Regions from separate parts of the Homo sapiens genome. Here region 2 is linked to region 1. The links come from fine-mapping of genetic effects on gene expression. A gene starts in region 1. The other region holds a variant in brackets. All regions are shown on one strand. Distances are from middle to middle. Region 1 holds the start of APOBEC3H (apolipoprotein B mRNA editing enzyme catalytic subunit 3H). Region 2 holds the start of APOBEC3F (apolipoprotein B mRNA editing enzyme catalytic subunit 3F).

Region 1 (5,367 bases):
AAAGGGGAGATTTAGGCCGGGCGTGGTGGCTCACACCTGTAATCCCAACACTTTGGGAGGCTGAGGTGGGCAGATCAGGAGTCAGAAGTTTGAAACCAGCCTGGCCAATATGATGAAATCCCCTCTCTACTAAAAATACAGAAATTAGCTGGGTGTGGCACTGCACACCTGTGAACCCAGCTACTCGGGAGTCTGAGGCAGGAGAATTTCTTAAACCTGGGAGGCAGAGGTTGAAGTGAGCCGAGATCGCACCATTGCACCACATCCTGGGTGACAGAGCGAGACTCCATCTCAAAAAAAAAAAAAAGAAGCTTAAAACAAAGACGGGACGTTCTTCCTTCTGCCTTCTGAGGCCTCCCTAGTCTGTAGTGCCGGAGCTTCTAATAAATGATCACAACTTCACCGCACCCTGTGGCTCAGCTTGAGTTCTTTCCTGTGAGAGATCCAAGAACCCATTCTTGGGGTCTGGATCGGGTCCCCCTTTGCAGCAACGAACACAGGCCAGAGTGGCCAGCCTAACCTCCCGTCCTCCTGGAGATAACACCTAAGCACAGGCCCGTCCTAGACACCACAGGGTCTCTGCTGCAGGAATTCACTGGAGGAGTAGTGGGAATGCTGCCTGTGGGAAGGACCAGGAAAGGGTTCCGCCTTCCTTTCCATCCTCCCTGCTTCTCAGCCTGGGAGACTCAGCTCTGTGATTAACCAGCACTACAGTGTGCAGATCTGATGTCTCTCCTGGCAGGACCCCGCTCATTCTGGAATCTTCCATGGACTGTAGCCCCAACATTTAGGACAGATAGGGTGGAGGGGATGCCATTCCCAGGAACCTTCTAAATTCTCACCCAAGCTCCTGTGACCCCAGGGGCCATGCAGGGTCTAGAGGGCTGTCAGGGTGTGCAGGGCGGGAGGATATGGAGGGACAAGCTGGGCAAGGTTCAATGGGACTCCTTGGTGTGGAACCTAGACTCCGCAGTGACTGCCCCTAGTCCTCGCCCTTGGGATTCAACTTTCCTAGGGGTTCTTTGGTTTTTCTTTTTCTTTTCTTTTAGACAGAGTCCCGTTCTTGTCGACCAGGCTAGAGTGCAGTGGCACAATCTCGGCTCGCTGCAACCTCTGCCTCCCAGGTTCGAATGATTCCCCTGCTTCAGACTCCTGAGTAGCTGGGATTACAGATGCCCGCCACCACGCCTGGCTAATTTTTGTATTTTTAGTAGAGACGAGGTTTCACCGTGTTGCCCAGGCTGGTCTCGAACTCCTGACCTCAGGTCATCAGCCTGCCTGAGCCTCCCGAAGTGCTGGGATTACAGGCGTGAGCCACAGCACCTGGCCTGGCTCTTTGGTGTTTATGATCTGAAGGGTGTTGGTTGATATGCATGAAGACGAGGACATGGGTTCCAGAATGCAAATGTGAAGTCCAGGTCCTTCATCTCTGACCTGGGAGGCCCTTTAGGAGCAGTAAGTCCCCTCCCTCGTGTCTCCTCTCCTGCTCCTTTCCATGGAGCAATGAAGAACCTCAAAGTAGCTAGCTGTGGGGGAGAAGGGACACAGGAAGTCCTGGCCAGCACTCCAGCTCTGCTGTTGATTTGCTGTGTGACGTGGGGACAGTATCTTAGCCTCTCTGTGCTTGGGACCTCCTCTGACTGTCAGGATCACTGCCCTCCCCTCCCAGTGCTATCTGGGGACTGGGCTAGATAATGGGCACTGGATCCGCTGGAGATGCAGTCCTGAGCCTGACCCCAGTGCTCATTTCACATCAGGCTCAGGGTCCTGCCAGGAGGCTGAATGCCAAAGGTCAGTGGGGTGGTGGGGAGGGGGCTGCAGCCTGCCCTGTCCACCAGGGGAGTGGCATCTGGTCTATGGTGTCAGCCCTGGTCTGGATCCCTGCTCCTTTCTGTGGCTTCTATTCCTTTCATTTATTTTAGTTTAGTTTAGTTTTTGAGACGGAGTTTTGTTCTTATTGCCCAGGCTGGAGTGCGGTTGGCCAGGTTGATTTTGAACTCCTGACTTCAGGCAATCCACCTGCCTCAGCCTCCCAAAGTGCTGGGATAACAGGCACCGTGACCAGCCATCAATTCCTTTCTTTTTTCTTTCTTTTTTATTTTTATTTATTTATTTATTTTTTGAGACAGGGTCTCGTTCTGTTGCCAGGGTGGAGTGCAGTGGTGCGACGTCGGCTCACTGCAACCTCTGCCTCCAAGGTTCAAGCAATTTCCCTGCCTCAGCCTCCCAAGCAGCTGGAACTACAGGCGCAGGCCACCAAACCTGGCTAATTTTTTGTATTTTAGCAGAGACGGGGTTTCACCATGTTGGCCAGGATGGTCTTCATCTCCTTACCTTGTAATTTGCCCACCTCAGCCTCCCAAAGTGTTCGGATTACAGGTGTGAGCCACCGCATCTGGCCTTTGTTCTTTTGTAAACTATACCTGGGGAGGGAGTTGAGTCTGGCTGTACCTGGAGAGGGAATTGGGGGTGGGAGGATGGGAGGTGAGCCACCTCCATCAGACTTCCCCTGCCAAGCCCGAGGAAATAGAGAAAGAAAGGAGCCTGAGGGATCTGAAGCACCCCAGGGCCCTCCCACTCCAGTCCCACAAAAGGAAGAGGGTGGAGCCACCCTCATCAAGCAGTGACTTTTTGTGACTTTTGGGAGAGCTGACCTTTTGTGACTTTTGGGAGAGCTGCCAAAAGTGAAACTTAGTGCCTCAGACAAGCAGGGGCAAGTCTGCTAAGGAAGCTGTGGCCAGAAGCACAGATCAGGTACTGCCGCCCACTCTGTCCACTGGGCCCTCTGCTGCCACTTCCTGCCTGGCAGCCCTTCTGTGCCTCAGCCCTGGCCTCCCGCTGCCCCAGCCCCAGCCCTGGGCTCCTTCTCCTCTGGCTCCCCTGCCATCCCCACTCCCACCCAGGCTCTTTGCCCTGCTGTGTGGTCACCCCACTGCTGCTTCTGAACGGGCCGCCTCCCCGGCCTGCACCAGCCCAAGACCCCTGCTGAGACTCTCCCCTAAGAGTCATGGCTGGGCTAGTGCTCCCCACCTTGGGAGGGTGCTCTCTCTGTGTGCTTCCTGCCATTCCTGGGCTCTGGAACTGGGAGAACTGAACTAAAGGATGATGGGAGCAATCTGGAATTTTGTTCACAGTGCTTTGATGAACTTTGTGTAAGATTACTTTGTTTCAATACAAAGTCTTAGGAGAGGGTGTGGGGAGGCAATGATCTCTGAAGCACAAGGCAAATCATCTCTTCCAAGGATGTCTCCACTGTGGGCAGAGGAGGATGCAGATGACCCTGAACACACACTCCTCCTCCATGATCAGTATTCACATTCACCGTTTATAATGACACCAGTAACACGGAATATACGGAAAAACTCAATGATCAGGAGAAATGCTTTTATTTTAAAATTTAGGAAGAAGAGAGCCTGGTTCCCAAAGGCTCCCTCCTGCAGGGCCCGTGATGCAGAGGCTGGCAGGGCTGGCCAGGAAAGTGGCCCAGCTCCATGGCCTGGGCAGGTTACCCCACCTCTCTGCACCTCTGGCCCCTCCTCTGTAAGATGAGAATGGCCCCTGCAGGCCTAGGGCAGCCTCACGTGAGCTCAGATCCTCTCAGCACTTAGAAGAGTGGCCTGGGCCTGGGGATGGAAGTGCTACCCTGATTTTTTGTTTCGTTTTGTTTTTTTGAGAAGGGGTGTCTCAGTCTGTTGCCCAGGCTGGAGCGCAATCTCGGCTCACTACAAGCTCCACCTCCTGGGTTCACGCCATTTTCCTGCCTGGCCAGGCAAAATGGCTCATGCCTGTAATCCCAACACTTTGGGAAGCTGAGAGGGGAGGATCATCACTAAAGGCCAGGAGTTCCAAACCAGCCTGGGCAACACAGGGAGACCCCCTTATCTACTAAAACTAAAAAAATAAAATAAAATAACATGAATAGGTAAAATGCCAGGAATTAATTGAACTGAAATATTAAGAGCTCTTATTTTGAAGGGGAGAATTTTATTCACTTTTCTTATTTTTAATGGGTTAGAGGATGGGTGGCAGAAATACTGGGAGGATGGGAGATCCATCCCTGGAAAGACCAGAGCTAGGGCCCTGAGCTGGGAGAGGTCACCCCGGCCCTGCTGCCCCTGCCAGCATCTCCTTCTCTTCTCCTCTCCCTGGTCTTCCTGCTTGGGAAAGCTGCAGAAATTCTCAGGACTTGGAGGCTTGAAATGCTCAGGGGTTTTCCAGAAAGCAGAATAGAAAGTAGATGGGCAACCATCAATCAGACAGGCCAAAGAAAAGGAGCTCAGGCCCTCGGGGAGACAGGAGGTGAGCGCATGGGTCACAATCCTGGCGGGGCGCGGTGGCTCACGCCTATAATCCCAGCACTTTGGGAGGCCGAGGTGGGTGGATCACCTGAGGTCAAAGGAGTTCAAGACCAGCCTGGCCAACATGGTAAAACTCCATCTCTACAAAAATACAAAAATTAGCCGGGCATGAAGGAGGGCGCTTGTAATTCCAGCTACTTGGGAGGCTGAGGCAGGAGAATTGCTTGAACCCGGGAGAATCACTTGAACCTGGTAGGTGGAGCTTGCAGTGAGCTGAGATTGGACCACTGCACTCCAGCCTGGGCAACAGAGCAAGACTCTCTCTCAAAAACAAAAAAAAAGCAAAATCCAAAATTGAATCCTCTGTAGAATGTAATCACAATTCAGGAGAGCAAAATCTATGTAATTTCTTCAGCCAAAAATGTGTCACAACACTCCCTTGGTGACAACAGCTTTTCTGTTCACTCAACTGTGTTCTGTGCAGACAAACTTGTCAAACACACACCTGAGCAAAGAGCACAGTGCTGGAGGAAGCCCCAGTTTCCACCCCATCACTCCCCAAGGGGAAGGGTTCTGGTATTGGACATGTAGGGGTCGAGAGGCCTGTGGACCTCAAGGAGGGGGTGTCCAACTGCAGCTGGAAAGAGGGATCTGGGACTCAGGCCAGAGGCGTGTGAGCAGCTCAGAGCAGCTCTGAGCCCAGGGGAGCCAGAAAGGCACACCCACAGTTCTCAGGCAGGGGATCCCCACCCAACCCAGGAAGAATAGTGACGAGGTCGGGGCATCCCCATGCAAAGAGCCTCAGCTGTGGGCAGCAGCCGGTGCCCTCCCAGGTGGGAGGATGGGAGATAGCAGACAAGGTGGGAGGGAGCACTCCCCTCCTCCTGTCCTCCTGCCAGCCCTTCCTTCCCCTGCTCCACTGCAGTCCTCCTGGCCAACAACTAAAGGGGAGACCCTCCCTCACCAAGGGGAAGGGCCCAAATGAACAGAAAGGGTTGGGTTTGGCTGGGCGCAGGGGCTCACACCTGTAATCCCAACACTTTGGGAGACCAAGGTGGGTGGATCACCT
Region 2 (5,367 bases), 58 kb before region 1:
TGACTCCCCAGACCCCTTAGATAGGAATTTGGTTTTATATATTTTAGAGAAGCATCAGCTATCAATCAAACACATTTAAGAAATACAGAAGCTGAGCGTGGTGGCTCACGCCTGTAATCCCAGCATTCTGGGAGACTGAGGCAGATGGATCATGAGGTCGGGAATTCTAGACCAGCCTGGCCAACATGGTGAAACCCCGTCTCTACTAAAAATACAAAAAATTAGCCAGGTGTGGTGCTGGGCACCTGTAATCACAGCTACTCGGGAGACTGAGGCAGGAGAATCACTTGAACCCAGGAGGCAGAGGTTGCAGTGAGCCAAGATCACGCCACTGCACTCCAGTCTGGGCGACACAGCAAGACTCCGTCTCAAAAAAAAGAAAAGAAATACTTCGGATTGCTCCAGAAAGGTCGGACGGCTCAAAGTGAGGGCAGGAGTGCTGGGGGGCTTCCAGGCTACAGGTAAATTTAAACATTTTCTGGTTGACAATTGGTTGAGTTTGTCTAGAGACCTGGCATCCATAGAAAGGAAACGTTCAGGTTAAGATAAAAGATTGTGGAGATCAAGGTTCTTTTGAAGTCTCATAGTGGCTGCCCTTAGAGACAATAGATGACAAATGTTTCCCATTCAGGCCTTTAAAAGGTGCAATTAGTTCATCTGTTTAGGACCGGGAGGGCCTAGAAGAAAAAGATCCAGCTATGTTAATAGAGATTCTTTACAGATACAAATTTTGCCCCACAAAGGACAACTTTGCAGGGCCATTTCAAGATATGGCAAAGAAACATGTTTTGGGGTAAAATATTTTGTCTTTTTACTTTGTCACATAATGTTGTGCCTGAGTCAGATTGGAAAGTAACTCACAATATATAGGGTTAAATAAAACCCATGTGGGCCGGGCGCAGTGGCTCATGTCTGTAATCCCAGCACTTTGAGAGGCCTAGGTGGGTGGATCACCTGAGGTCAGCAGTTCAAGACCAGCCTGGCCAACATGGTGAAACCCTGTCTCTACTAAAAATACAAAAATTATCCAGGTGTGGTGGCGGGCACCTATAATCCCAGCTACTTGGGAGGCTGAGACAGGAGAATCGCTTGAACCCGGGAGGCGAAGGTTGCAGTGAGCCGAGACCACACCATTGCACTCCAGCCTGGGCAAGAAGAGTGAAACTCGGCCTCCATTAAAATACAATAGGAAAAAAAAAAAAAAAAATAGAACCCCTCTGATGAGGATGTACGGGTTGTAAGGCATGACTCCCCAGACCCCTTAGATAGGATTTTGGGCAAGATTAAATAAAAACAAATCAGAGCTTAGTCCAAAGGCCTATGAACTAAAAATAAAGTCTTTAGCCCCCACCGATCCCCCCCAACTTTGGCCCCCAGTGGCCAGGGGTATCTCAGAAAAACCTTAAAACTGAGTTCCCAGCCATGATGGGAGGGGAGGTCAGGCACGCCTCATTATCACCCCGCCCTTTTGCAGTTTAGACACAACTGACCAGCAGTAATGTTAAAACAGAATCATAAGATGGGCAGAACCAGAACAGACTCTTCATGGCAATCAGATACCAAATCACAACCAGGACCTCAGGCCGTGCCAGGCAAGGGTGAGATCACACACCCCACACTTAAACAGTCAACTCTGTTCTGCCTGCCCCAAGGTTTTTTTTTTTTTTTTTTTTTTGCTCTAGCAGCTAAACAAGCACTGCCTCCAGATAAAGATGAAAACAATCACAGCTCACCCAGCGCCCGGACGCGGAGCAACAGAGCCCCTGCTCCACAGCCCTAATTCCAGGTTTCCCTGGACAAGAGACTGATTTCAGTAACTTTCTCCAGATCGGAAGACCACGGACCACGGACTAGTTCTGAATGGTTTACAGACCTGGCAAATTTTGGTGCCTTCATGTCCTGAAAGGACCTTTTGACATACAGGCTTAATTGTGGTACATTTAAATGTTGTCTCCACCGCAATGTGAGGACGGATTATACGGTTGCTTTTTTTTTTTTTAGATTTTTGTTTGTTTGTTTTTTGTTTTGAGATGGAGTCTCACTCTGTCTCCCAGGCTGGAGGGCAGTGGCGCGATCTCGGCCCACTGCAACCTCTGCCTTCTGGGTTCAACTGATTCTCCTGCCTCAGCCTCCCGAGTAGCTGGGATTTCAGGCACGTGCCACCACACCCGGCTAATTTTTGTAGTTTTAGTAGAGACCAGGTCTCACCATGTTGGCCAGGTTGGTCTCGAACTCCTCACTGTCATGCGTGTCTGTATAGAAAACCACCTAAACAGGCTTTGTGTAAGCAATAACGCCATTTATTCACTTGGGTGCAAGTGGGCTGAGTCTGAAAAGAGAGTCAGCGAAGGGAGATAAGAGAGGGGCAGCTTTATAGGACTTGGGTAGGTGGTGGAAAGTTACAGTCGAAGGTGGTCATCTGTTGTCAGCAGGGGAGGGGGTCACCAGGTGCATGGTGGGAGACCATGAGACCCATTGTCCAGAAGAAGAATGTCATAAGGTCGATTGATCAGTTAGGGTAGGGCAGGAACAAGTCCTAATGGTGGAATGTCTTAAGGTTGGTTAATCAGTTAAGGGAGAAACTGGCTGTTTCACTTCTTTTGTGTTTTTTTGGCTGCTCCAGACTTCTTGGCTGCTGCAGGCCATCTGGATGTATATGTGCAGTTCACAGGGGTCACAATGGCTTAGCTCCGGCTCAGAGGCCTGACACTGACCTCAGATGATCCACCTGCCTCGGCCTCCCAAAATGCTGGGATTACAGGCGTGAGCCACTGTGCCTGCCTGGGATCATATGTTACACGCATGTTTGTTCAATAAGCATGGAGTGCAGCCACCCACATGAATATTCATAGCTCCTCCTATAGCCTGTTGAATATGTATGTTTAGCCAACCCCTTCAGCATAAAGCTCCTGCCCCAACCCCTCCTGCTTCTAAATGTCTGTCTCTGGTGTTTCCCAGAGGCTGCTCTTCCCAGGCTGCGGGATGG[C/T]TACCTTGCTGCCTGTCACCCTTAACAAGAAATAAAATCTCCTTTCCAAATTTATACATTGTGGCCAGGCGCGGTGGCTCACACCTGTAATCCCGGCACTTTGGTACGCCAAGGCGGGCGGATCTCCTCAGATCGGGAGTTCGAGATCAGCTGACCAACATGGAGAAACCCTGTCTCTACTAAAAATACAAAAATTAGCCAGGCATAGTGGTGGGCGGCTGTAAGCCTGACCAACATGGAGAAACACTGTCTCTACTAAGAATACAAAAATTAGCCTAGGCGTAGGGGTGGGTGCCTGTAATCGCAGTTACATGGGAGGCTGAGGCAGGAGAATCTTTTGAACCTGGGAGGCAAAGGTTGCGGTGAGCTGAGATTACGCCACTGTACTCCAGCCTGGGTAACAGAGCAAGTCTCCGTCTCAAAACAAACAAACAAACAAAAAAACACAAAAAAACAAAAGCAAACAAAAAAACCAAATGCATCCCTTGTGTAATTTTTAGGTCACCGCGCCATGGGAACACGCTACCAGGGGAAGGGAGCTGTGAGACGCGCAGGGAGGCTCCAGACAGGCTGGCCTGGGACACCAGCCACTGCTCTTCCATGACATGGGGACAAGAGGAGGCGAGAGCTCAGCCCACCAGGGAGGAACTCCGGGCAGGAGATGGGGAAGAAGGAGAAGCAGGAAGGAAAGAGCTCAGTGTGGGGGCGCGCATGGCATCCCGGTGGGACATCTGAGGCCCACACCCACCTGCTGTCCCTCCCTCCCACGGTGGCCTCCGAGGGTGAAGGCCTGGGGAGAGGCAGACACCTGGCCCTTTACTCTCCCTCCCTGTCCCCATGGCCGCTGGGTGGGGGCCGTCTCTGGGATGATCCCCGAGGGCAGGATCCGGGAGTCCCTGCGGAGGCATCAGCCTGTCTGTCTTGATGGTGGAGAGGAGGCTCCAGCTGGGCGGGACCACCAGGGGAGGGGCTTGTGCTCTGCTGGCTCAGCCTGGTGTGGACCCACCTCGCGGGCGCTGGCTGCAATGACTTTCTCTTTCCCTTTGCAATTGCCTTGGGTCCTGCCGCACAGAGCGGCCTGTCTTTATCAGAGGTCCCTCTGCCAGGGGGAGGGCCCCAGAGAAAACCAGAAAGAGGGTGAGAGACTGAGGAAGATAAAGCGTCCCAGGGCCTCCTACACCAGCGCCTGAGCAGGAAGGGGGAGGGGCCATGACTACGAGGCCCTGGGAGGTCACTTTAGGGAGGGCTGTCCTGAAACCTGGAGCCTGGAGCAGAAAGTGAAACCCTGGTGCTCCAGACAAAGATCTTAGTCGGGACTAGCCGGCCAAGGATGAAGCCTCACTTCAGGTACCGCTGCCCGCTCTACCCGCTGGGCCCCTCTGCTGCCCCTTCCTGCCTGGTGGCTCTGCTGGGCGTCAGCCCTGGCCTCCCCCTGCCCCAGCCCCAGCCCTGGGCTCCCTCCCCTCTGGCTCCCCTGCCCCCGCCACTCCCAGCCAGGCTCTTTTTCCTGCTCTGTGGTTGCCCCACTGCTGCTTCTGAATAGGCCGCTTCCCCACCTGCCCCAGCCCAGGTGCCCTGCTGAGACTCTCCCCCGCCACCGAAAGTCATGGCAGGGCTGGTGCTCCCGGCCCTGGGAGGGTGCTCCCTCTGTGTTCTTTCCGCCATTCCTGAACTCTGGAACTGGGAGAATTGAACCAAAGGATGATTAGAGCAATGTGGAATTTTGTTCACAGTGCTTTGATGGATTTTCTGTAACATTTACTTTGCTTAAATAGCAAGTCTTAGGAGAGGGTGTGGGGAGGGAATGGTCTCTGAAGCACAAGATAAATCGTATCTTCCAAGGATGTCTCCACTGTGGGCAGAGGAGGATGCAGATGACCCCAAACACACGCTCCTCCTCCACTATCAGCATTCACTGTTTATAAATGACACGAGTAACATGGAATATAGTGGCCGGGTGCGGTGGCTCACACCTGTCATCCCAGCACTTTGGTAGGCTGAGGTGGGTGGATTGCCTGAGGTCGGGAGTTCGAGACCATCCTGATCAACATGGATAAACCCTGTCTCTACTAAAAATACAAAATTAGCCGGGTGTGGTGGCGGGCGCCTATAATCCAGCTACTCCACAGGCTGAGACAGGAGAATCGCTTGAACCCAGGAGGCGGAGGTTGCAGTGAGCCGAGATCGCCCCATCGCACTCCAGCCTGGGCAACAAGAGCCAAATTTCGTCTCAAAAGAAAAAAAAACAAAAACAAAAAACATGGAATATATGGGAAAAAAACTCAATGATCAGGAGAAATGCTATTATTTTAAAATTTAGTAAGAAGAGAGTCTGGTCCCCAATGGCTCCCTCCTGCAAGGCTGGTGACACAGAGACTGGA

Evidence for each region. PIP is the estimated chance that this variant, and not a neighbour inherited with it, causes the effect. A credible set is the group of variants that fine-mapping cannot tell apart.
Region 2: its variant is the best candidate, but not a certain one, in a credible set for the expression of APOBEC3H in blood mononuclear cells (TOPMed, PIP 0.52).

What each region holds. Positions count from the first base shown.
Region 1 is chr22:39,094,590-39,099,956 of GRCh38, forward strand. APOBEC3H (apolipoprotein B mRNA editing enzyme catalytic subunit 3H) reads left to right here and starts at 2,655. Exons shown (of 5, transcript NM_181773.5): 1 at 2,655-2,754. RefSeq lists enhancers at 1,777-2,976, 2,299-3,186, 2,517-2,856, 3,187-4,073.
Region 2 is chr22:39,036,645-39,042,011 of GRCh38, forward strand. APOBEC3F (apolipoprotein B mRNA editing enzyme catalytic subunit 3F) reads left to right here and starts at 4,220. Exons shown (of 7, transcript NM_145298.6): 1 at 4,220-4,333. The coding sequence starts at 4,317. RefSeq lists enhancers at 134-1,024, 4,030-4,089, 5,142-5,367. The variant C/T (reference allele first, on the strand shown) is at 2,987.